3 linked regions of the Homo sapiens genome follow. The protein of the gene in region 3 interacts with the protein of the main gene of each other region in a pairwise test. Each region holds a gene or a part of one and is shown on either strand. Other genes may lie near its edges.

The links.
Region 1: the proteins of TSPO2 (region 3) and PLEKHO1 interact in binary tests that used the Homo sapiens proteins (3 or more experiments, as listed by UniProt).
Region 2: the proteins of TSPO2 (region 3) and TMEM80 interact in binary tests that used the Homo sapiens proteins (3 or more experiments, as listed by UniProt).

The regions. Positions count from the first base shown.
Region 1 is NC_000001.11:150,152,916-150,159,940, reverse strand, and holds part of PLEKHO1 (pleckstrin homology domain-containing family O member 1), read right to left. Parts: intron 3,876-7,025; coding exon 3,735-3,875; intron 3,031-3,734; coding exon 2,926-3,030; intron 2,557-2,925; coding exon 2,455-2,556; intron 1,123-2,454; coding exon 418-1,122; 3' UTR 1-417. UniProt on the Homo sapiens protein: Plays a role in the regulation of the actin cytoskeleton through its interactions with actin capping protein (CP).
Region 2 is NC_000011.10:691,699-698,840, reverse strand, and holds the start of TMEM80 (transmembrane protein 80), read right to left. Parts: upstream 3,019-7,142; 5' UTR 3,014-3,018; coding exon 2,995-3,013; intron 1-2,994. Other genes in the region: DEAF1 (deformed epidermal autoregulatory factor 1 homolog), read left to right, coding at 3,794-4,082.
Region 3 is NC_000006.12:41,037,934-41,044,837, forward strand, and holds TSPO2 (translocator protein 2), read left to right. Parts: upstream 1-4,533; 5' UTR 4,534-4,845; exon of another isoform or gene 4,846-4,875; intron 4,876-5,032; 5' UTR 5,033-5,052; coding exon 5,053-5,225; intron 5,226-5,623; coding exon 5,624-5,765; intron 5,766-6,006; coding exon 6,007-6,204; 3' UTR 6,205-6,404; downstream 6,405-6,904. UniProt on the Homo sapiens protein: Cholesterol-binding protein involved in the redistribution of cholesterol from lipid droplets to the endoplasmic reticulum. Required to meet cholesterol demands during erythropoietic differentiation.

The sequences.
Region 1 (7,025 bases), on a different chromosome or scaffold from region 3:
CACCCTCAAACTGAAGGCCTGGGGTGGGACATAACAGAAAACATCCTCATCCCCCTCCCGCTCTAAGCTTAGAAGCCCACTGTATCCTTGGGAGCAGCAGTGGACTCCCTGTGCCGTCTTGGGGGCGGGCGGTGTGTGGAGTGGTCAGACTGTGTCTTTACCGTGCCTTCTCTCTCTCTGGCTGGGTAAAAACTTCCTGCTACTGCTGCGGGGTCACTTCCTCAAACCTGAGGGGCATACGAGGGGCATATGGAAAGTAGGTGGGGCAATAAGGGTTGTAGTGGGGTCAGGCATCAGCAAGAGCAATGAGTTCATTTTTGTTTTCTTTTTTTGATTGAGGTAAATAAAAAAGCTTTATCCAGCAACACGGAGATAAGAGTCTGTCCAACCCGACAAGTTCCAGACCCCACCCTGCCCTCACATCAGGCTCTTCCGGTACTGACTGTGCGGGGTGGTCTGTCTGAGGTGGGAGTCCGGGGTCTGCAGGTCCATCTGTCTGTACAGGTCTCTCAGCTCCCTGACCTCCTGCAGCACCCTCTTTGCCTGGCTCCAATTCGATGATGCCTCTCCCAGCAGCCGTTCCGTCTCCAGCAGCAGCTGCTCTGACTCAGAATCCGGCGGAGACCGAGGGGGGTCCTTGGCCTTTCGCTTCCCATCTCCCAGTCCCTGAACCTCTGCCAGAAGCTCCTGAGTCTCCTCCAGTTTCCTTGCTACCAGGTCCTGGATCCGGGACAGCTGCCCCGGGTTGGGGAGGGCAGGGGTTGGGGGTTCCTCAGCCCGCAGCTGGAGGGTGCGGGCAGAGGCAGCATCCCGCTGAGATAGGATCTCCTCCAGGGAGGCGCAGCGGCCTTTCTCTGTGGGCGTCAACTTCTTGGGTGCCTGGGGGGTGTAGGTGGCCCCTTTGTCTGTTTTTTCCCAAGGTCGGGAGAGACTGCTTGCCCGGTCTGCGGAGGGCTGGATGCGGTCTGAGTCCGCTCTCCGCCGGCTCCCTGCCAGCTGGGCCACAGACTTGTCCAGGTCAACCCGAAAGCTCTCAGCACAAGAGGTTGGTTCCTCAGGGGAAGGGTCTTCCTCTTGGATCAAGTCCAAGGTCAGCATCCCATCCGAGGTAGAGGTGGAAGCCTGTGGAGGAAGGGGGGAATGAGTGGGGAACCTGTCATCAGGAGGGATTTTCGGAATGACTGCCTAAAAGATGCAAGCTGTGGTCATTTTCCTCTACAAGCCTTCCTTGAATGAGAAGTACTTTTTTTTAGAGACAGAGTCTTGCTCTGTCACCCAGGCTGGAGTGCAGTGGCACGATTTGAGCTCACTGCAAGCTCCGCCTCCCGGGTTCACGCCATTCTCCTGCCTCAGCCTCCCGAGTAGCTGGGATTACATGCGTGCACCACCACGCCCAGCTCTTTTTTTTTGTATTTTTAGCAGAGGCAGGGTTTCACCATGTTGGCCATGGCTGGTCTCAAACTCCTGACCTCAAGTGATACACCGTCTCAGCCTCCCAAAGTACTGGGATTACAGGTGTGAGCCCCCCTGCCTGGCAAAGCCCTCTGCTCTTGACTGAACCCTCCTACTGAATGTGCTGTTTCTTATTCCTTTGATAGTGACTTGAATGTTTCTTCTTCTGTGATTTAGTTTGTTACTTGTTTCCTGTATTCTCCACTCTACCATAAGCTTCCTGAGGGGCGCCCTCTTCCTTGGTATTGTGGACTCTCAGCAATTAAACTGCATCTGATGCACACAGGATGCTCCCCATGGCACGACTGTCCTCCTCCATCTGCATCCTCTGAGTCCCACACTTCAGCCCCCTTGCCTTATAATAAAATTTGTTCTCTTATTTCCAGAATACTAAAAATGATGAGTATTCAATACCAAATATGTTGTTTTAGTCATTCCTCACAGCAGCCCTTCAAGGCAGGCATGATTACTGCCTCATTTTACAGTTGGAGACATGCAACTTCAGGGAACCACACAGGTAGCTGATTACAGTGAGGTTCCAACTCAGGTTCTAACTCCAAAGCCTGTGTTCTCTGCATTATACCTGCCTGCCTCTCTCTCTGAAGACTTAAGAGCTCAGAGGCATGAAAGAAACTAGCACGTTGTATGTTTCAGGAGTTCATTGTGATCCTTTCTCCTCCAAACACCCGCGGTACTACATGTTGTTACCCATCAAGACAGCCACCATACAGTAGCTAATTTTTCATTTTCCTGTGGGTATAACTCATTTTCTCCGAAAGAGGGTAACATTACTGGGAGCTGGGACTTTTGAACTCCTAATGGGCGCTGAATAAAACCTTTTGATTTAGATCTGGCAGAGGCATTGGGTGGAAGGACTTCCCTCGCCTTTGATCTTGGCATCAAGGAGGCCTCCCGCAAATGCCTCTGGTGGCATACAGTTCTGTCTGAGATGGACTGACACAGAATTGGCCCTTTGGCAATGTTTATTACAGTCTTACATACCACAGCCATTAGGTGTCCCCTTGTTGGGGGGCGGCGGGAGTGCTGGATTTTTGCCCTGTCTCGAGTGGGATGGGCAAGATAGCTGTCCTCCTCAACGGTGACCTGAAGAGATGTACTGTGAATCATGAGTGCTCTTCAGCGACTCGCTGTCCCAACCCAGCATCCCGAGGCCTGAACATGTGCCCACTCCATTCACTGCTTCTGAATGGGCAAGGGGATTTACTGGACACGAAGGGGGCTCTTTAAGCTGACCCAAGGCTGGCTCCCCCATCATGAAGCGGGGAAGAGGAGGTGTCAGATGAGACTTGGAGAGAAGGTAGAAAGAGATCAGGGCTTTTAAAAGGGTGGTAAAGAAGTAGAGCTGGTGGAGGAGCGAGTAAACGGGGCCTGCACAATCCTCCCCCTTCAGTGGGTCACAGCTGTTCCCTCTGCCCCAGCGTTCCTCCCTCTCCCCACAGTGAGCCCCCTGACCTCATCCAAGATACGGTTCTTGGCTCGGGTGATGGCAGAGTTGAGGGCATTGATCCACGATTCCTTCTCTTCTGGACTCACTGCCAGGAAGATCAGGTTGGGTGCCTGTGAGGGGAAGATTCCTGTTTCAGCCAGGGTTTTAGAGGTGGTGCCTCACCTTGACAATGAAGAAATAAGAGATTATAATCTCACTTTCTTAGACCTAGCTCCAGGAAGGAGAGATATTCTGCTTCCAGAGTCATCCATAACTTAAGGAAACCCAGCTTCTATTCCTGCAAAATGCATAGCTAGGAGGTTGTTTTAGAAATGACCAAGGAGGAGCTAAGAAGGATACTGAATATTAGTATGGTATTAGAGATAATTAGAGGAAGTCTGATGAAGGATAGGTATTAAAATACAAATCTTTCAATGTTTGAAGAAATAGAATGTGACAGGAATAACTTCCCTGGGTTCCCTCAGACAAGATGAATTAGATTCAGAACTTCAACCACCTATCAGGGTACAAGGACAGGGATTTTCTTCTAAGGGATGTAAATATGCACATGTGTGGATGTGTGTGTATAAGACAGAGAAAAATAAAGAGATATATAGAGAGATGATCTTTGTGGCTGAACAGGTTAAAGGGTGGCCTGCCTGGAAAGAAGGAAATGGCTACAATATTCTCAGGTGAAATGATAAAAGCCAGCAGGAGAGCAATTCAGGGAATCTGAACCAAGATTGCTGAGAGAGAAACTGAGGGGAAGGAGTTCTCCCCTGCCCCCTCCAACCCTGTCCATGTTCCAGCAGCCAAGGTGGCAGGAGAAACATACCGTGTTACCGGGCTGTTTGGAGTGGGCAAGAGTAAACTTGCTATGATTTTTCTTGCTCCTGCTCTTGGACTTCCGGAGCTCTTCACACTTCTCATAGTCACTCAGGTCAAATACCTCTTGAATATTTTTCTCATCTTTTACCTAGGGGAGGGTTGGGGTGAGGTGAGGAGGATAAAATTATTTAGCCCCTCCACCCAGACTGTTAGTTTAGATCATCTTGGGAAACAGAGGAAGCCTGAGGAGAGGGAGGCACGCCAGGAGAGGAGAGGGCCGTCTGCCCAAAGCCTACAAGGTCCTCACATCGAGGAGGACGCTAGGGCAGCTCCAAGTCTTGAATGTTAAGGTGTGTTTCTGTTTAAACCCCTTCTCTTCACTCTCCTTAGCCAGGCTGCCATTTCCAGAGTCCCACTATGCCTCTCTTCACCAACCGCCCCACTCTTTTCCTTAAGGACACAGCTTACATGTTCTAAAAAGGCTCACGTCCTTAAAGGGACATGGTAGATGGTTGATCCATTGCCCTCAGTAAGACAGACCTGTATGGCCCTTGATGGTCCACAGAAAGAAGATCAAGGCAGGGCCAGTTATCGGGGTGTCTGGAGGGAACGAGGGGCGGTCTCTGGCCTCCCCACTCACATGTGTGCAGTATAGCTCTCCCACCCCACCTCGCTTCCTTCTCTGGTATGTACAATTATAGAGACTCATCTTCCTTGTTCATTTCAGGAGCATCGCCACCACAGGACGGCAGCCCCGTGTTCAGTTTGCTGAATTTGTCCAGAGAAGCTGAAAACTACAATTACAGTTCCTACCCTTTCCTCCTCCCTCTAAGGTACTGTGACAATCCAAACTAACTCCTCCAGACCCCCTATCTCTAGGCAAGAATGCACTTAGACTCTCCCTGGGAGACTACACTTTAGACTTGGAAAAAAGTGACTTCTGTGACTTCTTGCCATTATTCCAGTTTGAGTGCCTGGGCCCCCTTTACTGCCAGGAAGCTCTTCCTCCTATCTAAACTTAGCCCTCCCTGCTATAGTCTCCGTCCCGCACTCTGGTTCCACCTTTAGCAGGTTTTAAGCAACATTTAGCTCTTAGCACTCCTGCTGAACGTCTCATCGAGGCCGCATTCCTAGTGACATTCTCCAACCCCAACTAGCCTTTTCTGAGCACTGCAAAGCAGCTCTAGGAACATTTCTTCGCAGGTTCATCTGAAACTGACCACAATGTTTTCTCTTTTCCCCTAAGGTGGTGTTCCTACAACTCTGGGACTCTGAAGCAGTGGCTTATGGATTTGTTTTGGCTAGCAAGGACCAAAGTTACAGAGAGGAGACTTAGTTACAAGTCCAGACCGTGCAGTCTGTCCACCCTCCGTGGCTTGAGCCCAGGGTTGGAACACCTCAGGAAAAACCTGGTCACGTTTTCCTGGAATGAGAATTAAAAGCACCAGCACTTGTCTCATTAAAACTAAACAAACAGATAAAAGTAGCCTCACGTCTTCCTTGGATGACATCTACCCACCCTGACTGAAATTATTTTCCAAAACAGTCCCCAACTTCCCAAGTTCTGAAATAGGACTCGTGTGCATGGAGGTGAACTCATCTATCCTCCTGGTTCCTGGAAACCTGGAAGTGGGGAAGTGGTTCTCCCTTCCATTACCCAGACCATCTACAGTCTTGTATCTGCCCATCCTTCTGAACTGCTGCTGGACCTGGAGGCTGATGACAGATGAGGACAGATGTCAACATGGCCCCATTCAGGTGAGTGACGCCTCATACATCTACCTCCATTTGTTTCAGCAAGGCTTGGCTCCTCCAGGGCCTCCCACTTTCCAGGGTTCCCTGGCTTTGGGCTGGAAAGTGGCCAGAGGCCTTGAATGATTACGGGTGGAAGTAGGACAAGGTGCTGGCAAGGGGTGTCCAAGAGCAATTCCCAGAAACACGGGACAGGGATACAAGATGATGCATCATCCCTCCTCTCCCCCTCCTTCTCCAGAGCTGAGACTATCAGCAGAGCCCAGAAACCGTGGAGAGGAAAGTGTTGGGTGTGTGAATGTAGCCAGGGGAAGAGAGTTAACTTACTATGTTTTCCTTAGGGGAAGGGAAGGAAAGGGAGTTATTCTACCTTGCATACAGACTGATTAGGAGCTCTGGGGAGCAGGAGACACTGATAGAGGTTAGCCCTTGGTGGAGAGGGTGGGAGATGGGGTGAGGCAAGCAGTAGGACAAGTATATTCCAGTGCCTGGGAAGATGGACAAAGCCAAGCAGCCTTGTTCTCCACCATATTGTTTTTTTTTTCCCCACATATCTAATTCCCAGAGTCTCATTTATAACTACCCATCTTCCAAATTAACCCTTCCTTTCCCCTGATTCTTCGTCCTTGACTATAGAAAGGGATTTTTCCCACGCCTGTCCAAAGAGTTGCCCCGAATCCAATTTCCTCCACCATGAGGTCTTCCTAAGGTCTAGCTTCTGTTCTTACACATCAGCCTGTGATCATAAGGTGCTCCAGCCCTCTTTGAGAGAGGATGCCCTTTGAGAAGGAAGAAAATGATTACTATCGAACACAGAAGAAATTCTACGGCAGAGGTGGTTGTGGGAGACCCTGCCTTTAAGAGAGGAAATAACAAAAGAGACTGGTGAAAATTCTGGGAGATAGGGTTAGAAATTTTCTTGCATTAACAGTAAATGATATAGATTATACTCTGCCTTAAAAAAAAAAATCTTGGTCAGGGACTGTGGCTCACGCCTATAATCCCAGAATTTCAGGAGGTTGAGGCAGGAGGATCACTTGAAGCCAGGAATTTGAGACCAGCCTGGGAAACATAGTGAGACCCCATGTCTACAAAAAATAAAAAAAATTAGCTGGGTGTGGTGGTGCATGCCTGTAGTCCCAGCTACTCCGGAGGCTGAGGTGGGAGGATTGCTTAAGCCCGGGAGGTCAAGGCAGCAGTGAGCTACGATTGTGACACTGCACTCCAGCGTGGGCGACAGAGTGAGACCCTGTCTCTAAAAAACAAAACAAAACAGAACACCGTGTCTTGATTCTATTGGCCCTGGAGCTTTTCACAAGTGGGCAAAATAAAGCCCAGAGTACTCTGTCAATTTCACTTTTTAACCAGGCCCACTGTAGCATTGAAACTGGCTCTAAAAAAGCACAGTATCAATATGCCTAGTCCCTCTTTCCTGTGCCCTTCCCAGCAGGAGACAGCTGGCTCCATGACCAGTCAGATGGTCCTGACTCATAGGACACCAGATATCCTAGGCTGAGGTCATTCCATCCTTTCCTCTGTCTCTGTA
Region 2 (7,142 bases), on a different chromosome or scaffold from region 3:
CCTGACAGCCACCAGGATGCTTTCCCGGGTCTCGCTCCACACTGACAGGAACCACCCCTGCTTTATTTTCCTTTGATCTCGTATTTGTAGAAAGCAGCAAACATATACCGTGGGCCTGCCACTAGATAGCTCCCGTGCCTCTCTAACCATCCTTCAATGAGGCTAGGAGTCTCTGCCTTTCAGAACCTGAGGCTGGAGACAGCGAGTACCGGGGGCACCGGGGTGGGAAGTGAACCTGGGCCAGACCCAGCTGGCCCTCAGGGAAAGCAGCACCCTGGAGCCCACCCCAACAGCTGCTCTCATTGTCTGTGGCTCACCGTCTGTGGCTTCTCCGTATTTGCCACACATATATGACTAGATGAAAACCTTTTCTGACTTAGGTTGTAACAAATCTTTTTTCATGATTGATGAGACATTTGCTTTCCTCTGAAATTTTATCCCCAAATATCCCTCCAAAAATAAGGATTTTCCAAACCAGCAATGCAGCTGTCCAGTCTTTTTATCATGCAACCTCTTGGGCCTTCTCCCACCCCCACCTGAGAGATGACAGGAAGCCCGAGGAGTGAGTGGAGTCTCTTTCCTCCTTTTTGATTCTGAGGTTTTGCATCTGAAGACGCCTCTGACTCACCCTGGATCCACGCTGACCTGGAGCGGACTAATTGTCTGAAAAGGGCTCAGGCCAGTTGCACGTGTGATATGTGCACGTCCCTCCATGTGTAGATACCTCAATACACATCTAGAATTGGGTGGAAACCTCTCATAAAAGGAGGCTCAAGCTGCACCGCTGGGCGGCAGGCAGGACAGCAACCTGAACACAGCCTCTGTTCTATTTCCCCTTCAGCGCCAGGGAGGGCAGGACAGAAACCTGGCGTTGGTGAGATTTTGTGGCTGATCCCACAGCTTCTTGGGCAGATCTGGGGCCTTCTGTGCCAGAGTTTGTGGAATCTCACACAGGCAAGAGTTTTAAGCCAGTAAATACAGGACATCGGCATCAGAGACTCAGAACTGGGCTCCTGGAAGAGGCACCACAGGATGGAAGCAGGAAGCCAAGTGCACGGCAGACCACGCCGCATCGCGTTCCCGGCAGGCCACTCTTTAAACCCGATCTGTTCTTTTCCAGGCCTTAGCTAAACCAGGCCACCTAAATACCTGTCATTATCTGTGATGATTTCGCATTAATTGGGGTTTTTGTCCCTTCTGTTCCTTTTCTTAAAGGCTGGCTTCTTAAACACTTCCAATGTGTCTGCTAGTTGCTCACTGTTATAGATTGAAGTTATGGGGCTTGGGGGAAAAACTGTATAAAAGCCTTAAGTGATGTAACATTTTAATAATTAATATGAAGGGCGGCTATAACCAGATACGCTGTTCTAACAATTCCAGACCTGCAGGAGCTCATTCTGACCGAACGTAGCCTTGGCTTTCAGGACAACATTTTTTGTCAGTGACTTACTATAATCACAATGTGGCTACGAATAGCTGTGTCAGGCAGAAGTTAAACATGGAAGTGAAAGAGAACAAGTGTTTTCCCTGATGTAATGGACAAGATGTGTTAAGAAATCTTGTTTTGGTATACACTTAGTTTTTTTAGAGACAGGGTTTTGCTCTGTTGCCCAGGCTGGAGTGCAGTGGCCTGATCACAGCTCACTGCAGTCTCAACCTCCTGGGCTCCAGTGATCCGCCAGCCTCAGCCTCCCACGTAGCTGGGACCACAGGCTCCCTGAGGTAATTTTTTTTTTTTTTGAGACAGAATTTCGCTCTTGTTGCCCAGGCTGCAGTGCAATGGTGCGATCTTGGCCAACTGCAACCTCCGCACCCCACCCCCCCCACCACCACCACCGGGTTCGAGCAATTCTCCTGCCTCAGACTCTCAAGTAGCTGGGATTACAGGCATGCACCATCACGCCAGGCTAATTTTGTATTTTTAGTAGAGACGGGGTTTCTCCATGTTGGTCAGGCTGGTCTTGAACCCTCGACCTCAGGTGATCCGCCCGCTTTGGCCTCCCAAAGTGCTGGGATTACAGGCGTGAGCTACTGCGCCTGGCCTTCCCCGGGGTAATTTTTAATTTTTTTTTTGTAGAAGGGGGTCTCGCTCTGTCGCCCAGGCTGGAGTGCAGTGGCGCCATCACGGCTCACTGCAACCTCGACCTCCTGGGCTCAAGTGATCCGCCAGCCTCAGCCTCCAGAATAGCTTGGCCCACAGGGGTGCGCCACCGCCTGGCTGATGTTTACAGTTTTTTTTTTATAGAGGGGGTCTTGCTATGTTGCCCAGGCTGGCCTCAAATGATCCTGCAGCCTCGGCTTCCCAAACTGTCAGGCTTACAGGCCTGAGCCACTGCGCCCAACCTAAACTTAATTTTTAACCAAATGAAAATACACAAAACAAACCTGGTTACTAGAGGCTGTCCTGCCTATGGAGTAGCCATTCTTTATTCCTTCAAAACAATGCACCTAATTACTAGAGAACACGCACGAAGGTTTGGCACTTCAGCGCCCGCGTATGGGAGTTCTGGCTGTACCCACAGACAGCAGAAGGCGGCTCCTCTGCAGGATGGCCGATTTACTGCTTTGGTCTGTCCCTTCCTCCTCTCGGAGGCGAGTCTCTCAGGCAGGACGGCTGAGGCACCGGCGCCCGCGATTTTCTTTGGCGAGAGTTCCAAGGCTACCGAAACCCTGCGCCCATCCCGCCCACGTGTCTTCACAAAAACCACGCGCGGGACAAGAGCTGCCGGGGACTGGGGCCCCCAGAGCCGCTCCGCACCCACCCTGCCCGGGGCCAGGCGCCCGCGCGCGGGGGAGCTCTTCGGGGTGCAGGACGCCCGCCACCCAGGCCAGGCCAGGCCGCGCTTCTCGATGGGGTGACGGAGCTGTCTCGCTCACGTAGAGACGGTGGCACGGCCCCGTGAGCGCACCGAAAGCGGAAACCGGATTGTCACCACAGGGAAACGCCGCGCCCGCCGCTGCAAGCCCGGAAGCCCCCACCCCGCCCGAGCTCACCTCGCCGCGGGGCCGCCATCTTACCCGCCCCGCCCGCCGGTCCGTCGCGATCCCGGCAGCCTCTCGGCCCGCGCGCTCGCGCTCCTTCGGCCATTTTCGCGTCTCCTGACGAAGGGGCCCGACCGCGCCGCGTTTCGGGAGCGGACGTCCGAGCCACGGCCGAGGCCCGATTAGTCCGTCCGGCACCGCTCGGGCACTTTCGGAAGGGAAGAGGTGGAGAACCGACGTTCGGGAGCATTCGGCCTCGGGGACATTCGGCTCGTCTCGGCTCGGCCTCGGGCTGACTCGGCTTCCGCCGGCGGCGGGAACGGGCGAAACCCGCGGCACTAAGCTCTCTCTGAGAGGCAGAATTGCGCCGGCCGCCGGCGAGAATCTGCCTAGAGCCGTCCAGCCCTGTCGGCCGGGGACGACAGCCGCCTCAGCCTGTCAGGACAGTGAGGAGAGCAGGGGCCGAGTCTCTCGGAAGCCCTCGTGAGGACTCGGACCTATTCGGACTGATTCGGCTTCCCACTTCGGGGAACTTCGACCCTCCTCGGTTCAGGACTCGGTCTCGGCTCGGCGGCTTCGTGCAGGTTCGGCTCCTACTCGGGCAGCCTCTGTTCGCCTCGGCTCCGCTCCGCGGGCGGACTCGGCTCGGCTCTGCTCGGCGGCTGGCTGCCTTTTCGGTCCCTATTCGGGCGGCGGCTTCGGGCGGCCTCGGCCCAGCTCGGGCGTCCTCTTCGGGCCCCGCTTCGGGCTCCGCGACCGGCGCTTCGGGCGGTCCCGGACGGCGCCTTCGGGAAGGCTCGGCGGAGTCCGGATGGAGGACTCGGACTCGGCGGCAAAGCAGCTGGGCCTGGCTGAGGCGGCGGCGGTGGCGGCCGCGGCCGCTGTGGCGGCGGCGGCCGCGGCCGCGGCAGGAGGCGAGGCGGAGGAGCCGGTGCTGAGCAGGGACGAGGACTCGGAGGAGGACGCAGACTCGGAGGCGGAGCGGGAGACGCCGCGGGTCACGGCAGTGGCGGTGATGGCGGCGGAGCCCGGGCACATGGACATGGGCGCCGAGGCCCTGCCCGGCCCCGACGAGGCCGCCGCTGCCGCAGCCTTCGCAGGCAAGTGCGCCCGCCGGCCTCTCGCCTCGTCCGGTTCCCGCGCGCCTACCCCGCGCGCCTGCCCCGCACAACTGTCCCAGGTGACCAGCCCGCCACACCTGTCCCTCACACCTGCTCCACGTGACCAGCCCGCTCCACCCGCCCTGCACACCTGCCCCTCACACCTGCTCCACGTGACCCGCCCGCCCCACCCGCCCTGCACACCTGCCCCACGTGACTAGCTCACCCCTCACATCTGCCTCTCACACCTGCCCCACCCGCCCCTCACACTTTCCCCACGTACCTGCTCCAGGTGACCAGCCTGCCCCACCTGCCACAAATACCTGCCTCGCACACCTGCTCGACGTTTCCAGCCTTCCCCACCTGCCCCACGTGATCGGCCTGCCCTACCTGCCCCGCACACCTGCCCCACATACCTGCCCCAGGTGACCAGCCTGCCCCACCTACCCCAAACACCTGCCCCGCACACCTGCCCCTGGTGACCTGCCTAGCCTCACCTGACCTGGCCCTGCCCTGCACACACCTGCCCCCTGCCCCCCTTTTCTTTGTGGCAGCCCCGCCTCCTACTGGTCCCCCCTGTGCAGCTCTGCCCCTGCCCTGCCTTCGTCCATCCTGGCTCCCCCCACCTGTCCTGGAGAAGCCCTGGGGTGGGTGGGCACCTGTGGTCACCAGGAACCCCCCACTTCCTGAGGGCCAGTTCAGGCATGACCTGAGCGCTGGGGAGCCAGGGGTGGGCAGCCTGCTGGAGGCCATGATGCCAGAGGTCAGCGTGGCTGTGTGGTGGCCCAGGGGGGCTGCGGAGCCACCTGTGCAGGCTCCCCTCCCAGTCCTCCCTCTTCCTCTTGCCTTTTTCCCTAAGGACCTGCTCCTCCTGCCCCGCTTCCTGTCGGGCTTCCTTTGGGGAGGCTGCTGTGGCTTTCCAGTCCACATTTTTATATAAGCTGCTTATAGTTTCTTGCCACACAGGTCAGTCTCCTTCTCAGGCTCCAAAACACTGGGAGCCCGTGGCAGAGCTCACAGATGCCCTACGGGGCTGGTGCCGTCCACCCACCTCCTGTGTCCCGCCCTTGTGTCCGTGGGGCATAGACTTCCCCACCCACTGGCTTCCTAACGCACTGTATTCTTCCCCATTGGAGTTCCCGAGTGTCCCCCAGGGACTCACAGCTCAGTGTTGAGACCCTTGGGAGGAGCTTCTTGTTGCGTTGTGAGGCACTTTTCCCCTACGGAGCTTTGCGGGTTGAGGAACTGGATCCCAGTCCTGGTGTGCTGGGTATGTCAGGGCATTGCGTGTGCTCTGGGTGCTTGTTCGGCCTGGGGGCTGGGTGGGGGCCAGCAGCGTCTGGGCTGCCCTTGGTCAGCTGAGTGGCCCTCGAAGGCAAAGGGGTCACTGCTGCTTGTTTGGTTGGTTAAGAAAAAAAAGTGAGGGAAGGCTTTGTGACTCTCAGGGGTTGGCGTCCGTCGCTAAACTCTGGTTTGACGTTGGGATTTGGAGCCATGAGGTTGATTTCAGGTTTTTGTCATTTTTGCACGTATTTTTCTGAATGCATAAAAGAAAAATGATGCTGTTCATCATGATGTCAGAGAAATGTGCTGACGTGTGTTTTCTTCTGAAAAATATGGTAGTTGTGTTTTGATGTGGTAAAAGCACTTTAATACTTTTTAAAAATTACGAACAGCTGACGTCAAGTGGTTTCCAGGTTTAAGTAACTCAGCAGGACACGCTGCCGCCTGAGGAGGCTTTGGGCGGCTGCTCCCAGGGCTGCCATGGGCCTGGCGTTGAGCACTCACTGTGGCCGCGCGCCGCATGCCGGGGCTTGTGGTGCTGAGAGGCGAGGATGAGGGAACCGTGCACCTGGTGTGGTCTGGTCGTGGAGACAGACAGCAAACATGCCTTTTTTTTTTTTTGAGACGGAGTTTCGCTCTTGTTGCCCAGGCTGGAGTGCAATGGTGTGATCTCAGCTCACCGCAACCTCCCGCCTCCCGGGTTCAAGTGATTCTCCTGCCTCAGCCTCCCGAGTAGCTGGGATTACAGGCATGTGCCACCACGCCCGGCTAATTTTGTATTTTTAGTAGAGATGGGGTTTCTCTATGTTGGTCAGGCTGGTCTCGAACTCCTGACCTCAGGTGATCCGCCCGCCTTGGCATCCCACAGTGCTGGGATTACAGGCGTGAGCCACCGCGCCCGGCTGCAAACAGGCATTTTTAGGGCAGTTTGGTGAGTGCTGGGTTAATGGTATGGTCAGGACTCATTCAACCAGTATCTTTTAAGCATCTGCTGTGTGCCAGAGATTGCCCTGGACACAGGACATTCTAGAACTCTGGGTGACAGAAGAGCCACTTGCTTGGCCTAGGAGCATCACAGGAAGACTTTGCAGAGGCAGAGAGGAGGGTGTGGGGGTGTTGGCGGCAGAAAGTGTTTCTCTAGAAACACTCCAGCATGTAGAGGCTGGAGCTGCAGGACCTATCTGGGATGACAGGGGCAGGAGGTGGGGTGCAGCTGACCTCTGTGGTAACTGCCCTGTGTGCAGATGCTGCTGAAGGGCCTGTCTGCATGCCAGGGGGCTGAGTTCCATGTTGTAGGGGGTGCGGTGGGGTGGCACCAAGGGACATAGGCAGGTTAGATGTACTTTTTAGGAGGAAGGGGTCAGAGACCAAGGGCAATGGCTGTGAGCATGGGGCCGAGGTCACCTGACGATGGTGGCCTGACCCCTGCGGTGGAGGAGAGGCAGGAATGGAGCTACAAGAGTGGGTCCAGGAGGTGTCCTCACCTGCGGGGAGGCCGAGAGCTCCTCGTAGGCATAGGGCACACCTGACCAGCAGAACCCACAGCTGTGCCGCAGAAGGAGATAGAAGCCCCGTGGTGGTTTGATAGAGCTGGGGCTGGCTGGGGTGGCGGGTTTGTTGTATGCATTTTTTACTGCACGTAAAAGGCTTTACTGGGGAAGAATAGATTTCCTCTCTTTTTCCTGGAAGAGCCGAATGACTTAGACAATGGAATAGAAATGTAGGTCGAGCGTGTTCATGGAAGTGTTAAGATCTTCCTGGTTACAAGGGCACACA
Region 3 (6,904 bases):
CTCATCTCATCCTCACAGCAGCCTTAGGAGCGAGGTGTTATTTTTATCTCCATTTCACAGATAAGGAATCCGAGCTTTCTCCCCACAGTGAAGATGGATAGGGAATTACTAAACAACTGAAGACAGGCAGGAAGGAGGAGCAAAGACGAACAAGGACTTCCAGAGATACCCCCTTTCTCTCTCCACCCCTTCTTTTCCCCAAGTATCTTCCTTTCCTTCTCTAGAAGAAATAAAGTTGGAAGAGAAAGAAGCAAAAATGAAGTAAAGACAAATAGAAGGACCTAAATTTACATCCTCAGTTATGTGGTAATACCCACCCCACTACACCACACCCCCACCTACCAAGGTACCAGTGGCAGGGGATGGAATTGCTAAAGGGATGAAAGGAGGGGCCCCAGCTCGCTTACACAGCAGTAACCTTCCTGGGGCCACCAAAGACCAGAGTCCAGATCCCCAGTGAGGTGCACCTCACTGGGTGGTGCAGTAGAGTCCCCTGGCTCAACCTCCGACCCTGGAGAAGTTGGCATGCACCACTCCCAAAGCCCCACTGGGCCTCTCCCAGGGTGACTGCTCTTCCAGGCTGCCCTGGCCCTCACTGCATCCTCCCTCTGGCTCCAGAATGGGGAAAGGTCCGGAGTCTTGCTGAATGGCAACTATAGCACTGCAGCCATTCGAGTGTGACTTGGGGCATCCCAACCCCATGCCTGGACTCCTCATTACCCACTCCTCCAGTCTGTCTTGCTCCAGACCCCAGATCACCCTGGGTAGCGGGTCCCCGAAACGAGAGTCCTTTAGAATGCTGCCATCACCTGTCCCTAGGCAGTTGCATCCTCCAGCACAAAGATCCAAACTCCTGCTGCAAAGTTCTGCTCATACCCTTTAAGAAAACTCTCAACCTTTCCTCCACCTCACTGGTTCTCCCTGTGCCTCCCCAACACCTGATAGATGTCCAGTTACTGCAGAACATAACAAGTACTGGGATGGATGGTCCAAACCCAAGTCATGAATGGCATTTGTTAGTATAGTAGACATTTCCGCAGGACACAGAATCATCCCAGTGGTCCTCATACCCATTGGCCAAGTCCCATTTTCCTCCCCTCCTCCAGCAGAGGGTCCCTACACTCCAGCAGGCAGGCTAAGCTGGCCTGGCTCCTCCCCCGAAGCTCCAGGTAACCCCATCACAATGCCCATCCCCTCTCCAGCTGCCCCAAGGGGGTGCTCAACTTACCGTCTAGGAGCTCTTAGAGGCTGCTGGCTGGTCCAGTTCCTTCTCCGAGAAACAAGGGTCAGCCAGATTCAGTCGGCAGGCCAGCAGACAAGTGGAGGTGGGCGGGGAATCCAGGCAGGAGTGGCCTGGCATTTCCTGGCAGAGCCCTGCCTCCCAGCTGTCTAAAGAGGGGTGAGGGAGAGTGTCCCTGTCTATTGGCAAAGTCCAGCCCAGGTAAGGGATTAGCTGAGGATCCCAGAAGTCAGTGAACTTTCCAGTCTAGGTCTGGAAGGAAGGAGGGAGGCAGGGAGACAACCTGGGTGTAGGTGCTGCACCTTGAAACCCCTCCTTACAGTGCCCTCTGCTGGTGAGTGGCTGTCCCCAGCCAGAGGCTATTATTAAAATAGCAGATAGGAGGAGGAGGGAACCTTCATCTGAGTTTCTTAAACTATAATGTGCACAACAGTCACCTGGGAGATCTTGTTAAAATGCAGGCTCTGATTCTGTAGGTCTAGTATGGGGCCTGAGATTCTGCAGCTCAAAGAAGCTCCCAGCTGATGCCAATGCAACCGGTCCAAGGAGCTTAGAGAGCATCTAGTTCCACCCGCTCCCCACACAGAGAAGACAGTGGAGCCACTGAGACGGTTAATGACTCACCAGTTGCTGGTGGACCTGAGATGTACCCATATTTTTCCTTACACAAGGTGCTTTCTACTTCCCCCACCCAAAGTTGGCAGAGACACTGCCGGTTGGGAGACAACTGAACTTTGGGGCCATTTGCCATTCTGAGTTCTTAAAACTCTGCCTAGGAGCGGTGGCACCACAAGAATGAAAACTCCTTGTGGAACTTTTCCCATGTTTTCGGCTGTCTCCTCAGCTCCTGGTACAGCCTGATAGATAGAAGGTGTTCAATAAACATGTCTTGAATGAATGAGTGAAGCAGTTGAGAGGGAAAAGGATGCATTTTGGCTCCAACTGGCCAACACTGAGCCCAGGTGAGCCACACGTTGGGTATGTAATATTGGGCAAGCTACTTAACTCCTCTGAACCTCAATTCCCTTGTCTGTCAAATGCAGTTAAGAATATCTACCTTGTGTGAGATAATAATTGTCATTATTGAGCTAATAAATGTCAAATGCCCACCACAGAATGGGTGGTCAATAGATGGTAACCGTTGTCACCAGGGTCTGGCCTCCTGCAGTTGAGGAGGCATGGTGAACGCCCCCCCAGGCCCCTAGTTATCATCTCCCATAGAAAATAAGTAACTTCCTCTGCTTTTGTCTCAGTTAATAATTCTCTAGCCTCTTGTCTCTGACTGCAATGCCCTCCCCTCTGCTTCCTTCCCTGGTGGAGGTGAGAGGGTGGAATAAACCTCCCAGGGGAGCCCAGTACCCCAAAGTGCAGAGATGGTAGAGAGCGGGCAACCTGGGAAGCAGACCTCATGCCTAAAGACAAGCCAGGAAGGGGTGCTCAGAACTTTGATAGGGAATGAAAGGAGTGGGGTAGGGGTGTTTGTCTTTGTTGAACAAAGCTCTGTCTGAGTCACACAGGAGGCTGGACTTTGCCAACAGACAGGGACACTCTCCCCTACCCCTCTTTAGGGCGGCTGGGAGGCAGGACTTTCTGCCAGGAAGCGCCAGGTCACTCCTCCTTGACTCCCCACCCACCTCCACTTGTCAGCTGCCTTCTCCTCTGAGTCATAAAGTCCTAGGGGTTTGTGAAAGATCTGTCAAGCTAGGGTTCTAAGCCAGGAAGGTCATGCCAACCAGGAGGCTATAACCAGGGGCTGTGTTCATGGATTATGAACTCACTTCCCAAGCTAGTTCTTGCCACTCTTGGGGACAATCCCAATTATAAGGAGGCTCTGAAGAAATGTGAAGGCTCCTACCACTCACTCCCATGGCCACAGAGCTGGTTCATGGGATGCAAAGACCACAGGCATCAACAGCATTATAACTGGGGGCTGAGCTGTCACAGGAGGGCCAGTGTCAAACCCTCACCACAAGCCCTCAAACATTCCATCAAGGGGTAGCCTCCAGAGGCCAGGCACCAAGGAGGGTCTGGCAGACCAGAGGGGCTCCTCCTGAGAGGAACTCTTTGGGGCCATGAAACAGCAACTTGGACTTCCCAGCCAGTGTCACCACCCTTCTCATCTGAGAAAGGCAGATCAGCAGGGAGCACCACTCCACCCTCCTCCCAGCCCCACCCTCCTCCCAGCCCCACCCTCCTCTGCCTTCCACACATCATATGTCATCAGGCCCCCCGCCTGGGAGGTGTGCTGCCAGAGGTAAGGGGAGCACAGGCCTAGGAACCAGGAGGCACTGGGAGAGGCAGGTGTCAGGAGAAAAGAGGATGGGGGCAGGGAGGGGCAGGGAGGGGGCCTCCACCACTGGACAGAAATGTAGAAAAACAGGAAGGCAGAAGATGAGCAAACGGACAGTCAGGAGCACAGAAAGACAAGTAGAAATATGCACAGGTGGGCATGCTGCTCAGCTCTGTCCCAGAACCTCCAGGACCAGTGTCCCTGACCCTTGACAGAAAAGGATGGATTAGGGCCAGGCACAGTGGCTCATGCCTGTAATCCCAGCACTTTGGGAGGCCAAGGCGGGTGGATCACCTGAGGTCAGGAGTTCGAGACCAGCCTGACCAACATGGCAAAACCCCATCTCTACTAAAAATACAAAATTAGCCGGGCATGGTGGCGCACGCCTGTAATCCCAGCTACTAGGGAGGCTGAGACAGGAGAATCACTTGAACTAGGGAGGCAGAGGTTGCAGTGAGCCGAGATTGCACCACTGCACTCCAGCCTGGACAACAAGAGTGAAACTCTGTATGAAAAGAAAAAAAAAAAAAGGATGGATTAGATAGTCAGTCCAGAATACTGAAAATAATCAGATTGTTTTCTCTCCTTCAAATCTGGTTAATCATGGGGGGAGGCTGAAATATCATGAACAAATGAGAAGAATGATATTTGTGGGGCCTTGGTGGGGCCTTGGCTGGAGGAGGGTCTGTACATTGTCCCACATGCAAATGACATGCAAAGCAACATGCCACCTTGGCAGCTTTTTAATCAAAGACCAGGCAGTTGTTTCCTTGAAAAGTCAGGCCACAAGAAACCTGGATGCTTGTGCTTACATCCTGACACTCTGGGAATGGAAAGATGGAGCAGGAAGCTCATACCCCATGGCTCCAGGGGTAGAAGAGAGCTAAAAGTTCAGAAAAAGGAATCCACGGTGTCAACAGGCCAAGTTTGAATTTGGGCAGGAGATCAGCCTGGGTGGGCCCCATGAGTGTGCCAGTCTGATATGGTGAGATAAGCCTGGGACAGATGTGCTGCCGCATTCGTGACTAGAAAAGAGTCCCCAGGAATTTCTGGCTCCTGCCTTCAGATTGTGAACTTTCCAGGTTGGTAGATCAGCTTAGGTAGAACAGTTCTCGGTGAGGGCCAGCTACATACCTGGCTAAGCGCTGCCCACTGCAGAAAAGCTCATCACCCGGGACCTGATCTCCAGGACTCAGAAGCACTTGGAGGAAGGCCTATTCACTTAGAAGCAGTTACCAGTGCTGGGCAGTGTCCTCCAAGTGCCAGAGGAGTGCTGTGGAGAAAAGAAGTCCATGGAAGCCAGGAGATGGGCAAGGTGTGGCCTGGGGTTGGAGAGAGCTCAGAGGTACAGGACTGGAGCTGGGCCAGGGAGAGAGGAAGGACCTCCGTGAGTAGACCTTCTCTGAGGGGCTCAGGCCAGGAAATGAGTCAGGTTAGGAGGCAGAGACAGACGAGGAGCCGCAGGGGAAGGCTCATCACTAGCATGTTCTCTGCCTCCCCAGATTTTGCCTCTTCAAGGTGAATGCGGCTTCAAGGGGCTATCTTTGTGCTCCTGCCCCACCTGGGGCCCATCCTGGTCTGGCTGTTCACTCGTGATCACATGTCTGGTTGGTGTGAGGGCCCGAGGATGCTGTCCTGGTGCCCATTCTACAAAGTCTTATTGCTTGTACAGACAGCCATCTACTCTGTCGTGGGGTGAGTACTTGTTTCTCACACATGGCCCTGGTACCCAATGGGGTGGGAACAAGTCCTCTATATCTGAATTACTCCCATATATTGGCCTCCAAAGGTAGGCGCTTTGTCTTGCCTCTCACCACCATAGTGGGTCCTCCAGAAAGTAAGAAACCCTCTATGCCTGCCTGGGGTTCCAGTTAGCCCTTCTTCCACCCTCTCTAAGTCTCCCCAGCCCCTCCTCCACCTCACCATGCCCAGCTCCTCCCACCAACTCCCTCCCTGGCCCTTACATGATGCCTAAACCCATCTGCCCCCATTTCAGCCCACAAGGGTATCCAAGAGTCCTTATGCCAGAGAGCCTCCTCCATTTGCCACGGAACCTCCTCCCACTGAATGTTTTTGCCACCATGTCTCCACAGCTATGCCTCCTACCTGGTGTGGAAGGACCTGGGAGGGGGCTTGGGGTGGCCCCTGGCCCTGCCTCTTGGCCTCTATGCTGTTCAGCTCACCATCAGCTGGACTGTCCTGGTTCTCTTTTTCACAGTCCACAACCCTGGTCTGGTAAGGCACACAGTGCTCAGTAGCAGAAGTAATGTGGGAGAGGGTGAAACCACCTGGCTCCAGAAGCACATAATTCAGCAGAGCAATTGAGTGCAGGCAGGTAATGGGTGGGCAGACTTCTCTGCACTCCCATGGTGTGCACAGAGCCCCAGGGACTGAGCTCGTTGCTGGGCTGGGTACTGCAGAAAGGTGGAGGTGCTGGTTCTCGGGCAGCCAGCTGACCCCCGGCCTCTATGCCCAGGCCCTGCTGCACCTGCTGCTGCTGTATGGGCTGGTGGTGAGCACAGCACTGATCTGGCATCCCATCAACAAACTGGCTGCCCTGTTACTGCTGCCCTACCTAGCCTGGCTCACCGTGACTTCAGCCCTCACCTACCACCTGTGGAGGGACAGCCTTTGTCCAGTGCACCAGCCTCAGCCCACGGAGAAGAGTGACTGAGGCCCTAGGGCATGGGAGAGGAGGGACGCCCAGGGTGGGGAGGAAGAGTCTGCAAGCAGGGCTGTGGAGTTAGGGTTCACCCCAATGGGACCACCCTCCTGGGTCCCCTGGTGCCGTTTTTCCTTAGAAATCAGAGAAATGGGAAAGGGGGGGAAACTGATTTTACACTTAAATAATAAAATCCTATTAGTAACTCTGAAGGTATGATGTGAAGTGTGTATTTGAATGCATAATATGATGACTAGGGCGGCAGAGTGGGATAGAAGCTTCTGGACCTCTGTGTGAGTGTGTGCGCGTGAATGAATGTGTGAAGGCCCATGGGGGAGGGGTGGGCACACCAGCTCGCCTCCATTCACATGCCTCCCCACCTGGCATAAAGATTTAGCACTCAGATGTTTAATTACCTGAAAAACAAAAGGCTTTTTAAAAGTGACAAAAAAGCCAAAACAGAAAAATACACCTTAAAAAAGGGTACTAGGGGGCCAGGAGTGGTGGCTCACACCTGTAATCCCAGCACTTTGGGAGGCCAAGGCGGGTGGATCATGAGGTCAGGAGTTCGAGACCAGCCTGGCCAACATGGTGAAACCCTGCCTCCAAAAATACAAACATTAGCTGGGTGCAGTGGTGAGTACCTGTAGTCCTAGCTACTCAGGAAGCTGAGGCAGGAGAATCACTTGAACCCGGGGAAGAGGAGGTTGCA